Linked DNA regions of Homo sapiens: region 1 is linked to region 2. The links come from fine-mapping of genetic effects on gene expression. Tissue or cell type: whole blood. Region 2 holds a variant in brackets; the other region holds the start of a gene. All regions are shown on one strand. Distances are between the middles of the regions.

Region 1 (2,607 bases), 48 kb before region 2:
GGACAGTGGCCAACTGTAGGACATGTCATTTTAGAGCTGTGAGGTACACAGCCCATATGGCAGTACCTGTCAACCCTGGACCTCCTTCCTCCTGAGGTTGAGTTGAGAATTCCACGAAATAAACCATAGGATTCATGCACACACCAGGCTGGATCTGCTACTCACTAGAGATTGACTCCCTTCTCCTTCTCTCACCTGAGGTACATTCCTACATTACAGCATCTGGAAAAGTATCCAGCTCTGGGGTTTGGTGACCTGGTTTCTCCAGGGTAAAACTTATGTACAGAGGTTTTTAGGTCCATGTTGTCATCCTGTAACTGGGGGAACCTTTCTGATCCTAGAGAAGTGATTGAGGTGTGACCCTTGGTGGCTTAGTGGATGCCAAGGTCAATAATTAAAACCCAGGGGTGTCATCATATCCTAACTTGGGGCACCCTTGGAGAGGCTTACCAGAAAACACCCTCGTTGTTGTTTTTATTTCTCAGTTTTCCAACAGATGGAGAAGCAGAGGTGTAGGGAATGGCCGGAACATGTGTGGGATCTGAATTTGCCCAAGGTCCTTATCTGGTGCATCAGAGAGTTAAAGGCCCAAGCCAATGTTCAGACAGTGAGGTCCAGAGGGAGGAAGCATCCTGGCCAACAGCAAGCAGCTGATGAACAGCAGAGCATTAGAGGACAGAGATGAGGAGGAAAGGAGAGAGGTGAGGGAAGGACCTGAAGCTGCTGCCAGGACTGAGAGAGGAAACCATAGGCAAGTCTTTTCTCTTGGGTCCCTGGAGCTGCCTCCTGCCATTTTTCATCCTCTATTGCCTGTGTGGACATGTGTTCACATTCACATGTGCCAGCACACATAGGGATGTAGAAAGCCCTGAAATAGCTAGATTGAGTCCTAGCTTGTAATCTGAGGTCTGGGGCAAGTGATCAGTACACTTGTCATCTGAGGTCCTTGAGCCTCAGTTTACTCATCTGTAAAATGGGGTTGCTTGATGCCTGCCTTGCCCACTTAGGTAGTAAAATGCACAAACCCAAATGGTCTACCTCCACAGCCTGCACTGATCCAGCCTCCCCCACCACCAGCAGAATAATCTGGGAGGTTGGGCACATGACCCTGCATCAAAGAATGCATGAGTGCCTCTCTGCACACAGCCCTGGGCAGTGCCCATTTCTCTTTCAGCTCAGTGAATGATGGAAACTCATGGAAGACAGCAGACAAAGCAGCCCCAGGGATAGGGGAGATTCCAGAGAGGCCCGTGACCAGGCCACAGGGATGCTGGGGCTGTAAACCAAAAGCCACTGGACTCTGTAAACCCACTGGGCACCACAGAGGCAGAAGGGGTGATGAGTGAGAGGCGAGTGGTAGTGGACTTGCCCACCAGTGCCAGCTCCAGCATGCCCCTCCAGAGGCGCAGGGCGTCCTTCAGGGGGCCACGGTCATCATCCTCCCTGGAGAGCCCCCCAGCCTCCAGGACCAATGCCATGAGTGGCCTTGTCCGAGCACCCGGGGTCTATGTAGGAACAGCACCCAGTGGGTGCATAGGTGGCTTGGGTGCCCGTGTGACCCGCCGGGCCCTCGGCATCAGCAGTGTCTTCCTTCAGGGCCTGCGGAGCTCAGGCCTGGCCACCGTGCCGGCTCCAGGTTTGGAGAGGGACCATGGTGCTGTTGAGGACCTAGGGGGCTGCCTGGTGGAATATATGGCCAAAGTGCACGCCCTTGAGCAAGTCAGTCAGGAGCTGGAAACACAACTGCGGATGCACCTGGAGAGCAAAGCCACACGCTCGGGAAACTGGGGTGCCCTACGGGCTTCCTGGGCCAGCAGCTGCCAGCAGGTAAGTGTCCAGGCTGTGCCAAGGGCTTTGCAGAGGGCTGGGAGGGGCTGCTGAAGGCAGCGGGTAGGGTTGTGAGTAGGCTGAGGCCAGAGAAACTGACCATAATCCCCTACACTTTCACACTTAAAATGGTAATGATAACAACAATGCTACCTTTTACCGAGGTTTACTAGGAGCCCACGCTAGCCCCCATACGTGCACTACCCACTGTCTTCTTTAAACTTCAAAGAAATGCTATGCAGTGGATCATTCACTGATTGCATTTTTCAGATGAGAAACTGAGGCATGTAATTTGCCCAAGACTTCAAAGCTAGTAGAGGGATGGAGATGAGATTTGAACCTGAATTTTTGTGCCTCCAAAGTTGCATTTGCCCCATTACCCTGGGGCTGCCTCAGTCACCTTTACTGTTGAGAAGGGATTTTTACAGCTATTATCCAATCAAATACCATTGGATGGATGAGGTGTTAAGAACAATGAATAAATGGAGGTGTGTTCCTGTATCCACCTACAACCACGCTGTTCAATAGAAATATGAACTACATTGGTAATTGACAAGTTTCTATTACCCACAGTAAAACACGTAAAAAGAAGCAGGTGAAGTTAATATTATAGCTTATTTAACTCTATATGTCCAGAATGTTATTTCAACATGTAATCAATACAAAATATATTAATGAGGTAATTTACATTCAAGTAGAGCTTTCTGCGTGATGGAAATATTAATATCTTATATCTGCACTGTCCAATCTGGCAGCCACTAGCCATATATGGCTATCAAG
Region 2 (2,758 bases):
CTTCCAAAGGCATCCATGACCAGAAATTTTAAGAGCTGCTAGGCAAAGCCAGTGAAACTTCATCTAAGGAGCCGGACTCTGCCCTGGAGAGATGAAAGCTTGTCACTGTGACAGAGGCTATGAACAAGTCTGCCTTTGAATAGTCTTTTTGTGCCAAAAATCCCACTCTAAAAACTCTTAGAAGATATCCAGATTTTATGCCTTATTATTTATATCCCCCCACCCTGACCATTGTCCAAAGAGAGGGACATCTTAATTCCACAAATATTTGCTGTAAGAAAGGTTCTCTGAGGTCCCCCAGAGCCTCTGTGCCTAACACAAGTCATGGTGGTAAGTGATCTTGACGCTCCCAGTGACCTTGTCTCCTTTGGTGTGTGTGATCGCTCTAGGTGGGTGAGGCAGTCTTGGAAAATGCCCGGCTCATGCTGCAGACAGAAACTATCCAGGCCGGAGCAGATGACTTTAAAGAGAGGTAATGTCTTACAGCAGAGGCGACAGTCCCTCCACATCCCTAGACTCCTAGGCAAGTGTGGATAATGCTGTTCTGGAGCCTGCATCATCCACCTTCTACCTCAGGGGAAGCTGGCAGGATAACAGAGCCATGATTATCCAGCTCACACCCCTCCTTGTAAACATAAAGTAGGCCCCAAGGGCTCAAAGATTTTGCCCACTGTCAGTTGGTTTAGAGCAGGGTTCTCAAACTCTGGAATGCTCAGAATCACCCAGGGGCCATATAGAAAACAGAGATTGCTGCGCCCCACCCTGTTGAATTTCTGACTCAATGGGTCTGGAGAAGGGCCCCAAATTTATATTCCTAACAAGTTCCCAGGGATGCTGATCCTGCTGGTCCTGGGACTCAAATACTTTGAGAACTACTAGCTTACAGTAATGATTCTCCAACCTGGGCATATCAGAATTACCTGGGCACTTAAAAATGTCAGTGCAGTGCACAAGCCATAGACTAATTAAATCAGAGTCCCCAGGGGTTGGGTCCAGGCTTCAGCAGTTTTAGAGCTCACCAGGTGACTTAATGTGCATCCAGGCTTGAGAACCGTGCTCAGCTACACCTCCCACTCAGTCCCTGAAGGCATCTGGGTTTGCAGCCACTCTCCTGGAGATGGACACTTTTAACATGGGTGCTTTGGAGACAGAAACCACATTTCTTATTTTGGGGTCCCCACCCTGGTGCTTAGCAGGTTGTCAGTAATGTTTGTTAAAGGATCCTTGGTTGAAAAGGAGGACAATCAGGATAGCGATGAAGATGCCGGATCCCCTAACCTGGATCTGAACTCCTGAGTTTTCCCTGGAGTTCTGTGTTGCAACACTCCCATGAGGCTGGTAGCCCGGGAAGCCAGGTTATCAGAAGTTGGCTGCAATTGCCTTCATTTTAATAAATCAATGTGTGACAACTGCACTAACAGTGCCCTCAAATCTATTGAAACAGTGACTTTTACCATTCATTGTCTAACTATCACATAATTGGCCTGTTGGTAACATTTATAATCTGATTCTTTTTCTTTTGGGCTACTCAGTTATGCTAATTAAGTTCCTTTATCTGCAGATATGAAAATGAGCAGCCATTTCGAAAGGC[G/A]GCAGAAGAGGAAATTAACTCTCTGTATAAAGTCATTGATGAGGCTAATTTGACTAAAATGGACCTGGAGAGTCAAATAGAAAGTCTGAAAGAAGAACTTGGCTCTCTATCAAGAAACTATGAAGAGGTAGGAGGGGGCTGGGGTTGCTGGGTTGGCCACAAGACCAGAAGTTCACATCTGTCTGCCTGTGCTTCATAACAAGGCCACAGTAGCTCATTTCTGACTCTCCACATTGCGTGCCCAGGACTGCAGGGAACATACCTGTAAAATACTTTCAGATCCTTGAAGTGGGTCAGGTTACCCCAGCAGTCTCAAACTCAAATAGCTTCAGGAACCAGTGTGGTACAGAAACAGGGGAAGGCAGCCAGTCTTGGCACTAGCAAATGAGGGAACTTGTGTTAAATTAGAGGGAGCAACCCCTCCTCAATGCATTCTATGTCAGGTTTTTTTTTCAACACTGTATTATACAAACAAAACAACTCTGAGGGTAGATCCAAGCTGTGGTTGACATCTACTCATTAACAAAACTGGGTCAGATTATTGAGTGACAGAACTGAAGAGGACCTCCAACAGTTATGGGGTCTAGTTCCCTGCGAGACTTCAGCAATTCTAAACCACCTCACACATATTACTGTCTGATCCAAGATTTAGGCTGCTTCAAGTTGAAAGAGTCAAAACCCACTTAACGATGCTCACATTGGGAAGTTCTTTCTTGAGACCAACTTAAGCTAACCAGCAACTGTAAGCCCATTTCTTCTTGTTCTTAGCTCAGTGATTTAAGACTACTCTCCAACAGTAACCATTTAGAGATGCCAAAGTTATCTTTTAAGTCTCTTTCATCCTTGTCTGGCTTTATGCATAAATGCCCTGTGCTGTTGTTGCTTACTTTGTTTTTGTTTTTGTTTTTGTTTTATTTTACTTTAAGTTTTAGGGTACATGTGCACAATGTGCAGGTTAGTTACATATGTATACATGTGGTTTTTTGTTTGTTTGTTTGTTTGTTTGTTTGTTTGTTTTATTTTGATTTCTGCTTTGGGCCTGGGCTTGTGGAGACCAACCTAAGAAATGCATCCTTGGTGCTAGGCATGGTGGTTCAAGCCTGTAATCCCAGCACTTTGAGAGGCCAAGGCAGGGGATCACTTGAGCCCAGGAGTTCAAGACCAGCC

The links. PIP is the estimated chance that this variant, and not a neighbour inherited with it, causes the effect.
Region 1: BFSP2 starts here. The variant in region 2 is fine-mapped to the expression of BFSP2 in whole blood (INTERVAL, PIP above 0.99). The same link has a PIP of 0.9 or more in T cells and blood mononuclear cells.

The regions. Positions count from the first base shown.
Region 1 is chr3:133,398,746-133,401,352 of GRCh38, forward strand. It overlaps BFSP2 (beaded filament structural protein 2), which reads left to right and starts at 1,311. Exons shown (of 7, transcript NM_003571.4): 1 at 1,311-1,827. The coding sequence starts at 1,339.
Region 2 is chr3:133,446,928-133,449,685 of GRCh38, forward strand. BFSP2 (beaded filament structural protein 2) reads left to right here. Exons shown (of 7, transcript NM_003571.4): 2 at 390-472; 3 at 1,562-1,718. All of the region lies in intron 2 of BFSP2-AS1 (BFSP2 antisense RNA 1), which reads right to left. Among named protein-coding and RNA genes, the nearest start is that of BFSP2-AS1, 43 kb to the right of the region's middle. The variant G/A (reference allele first, on the strand shown) is at 1,592.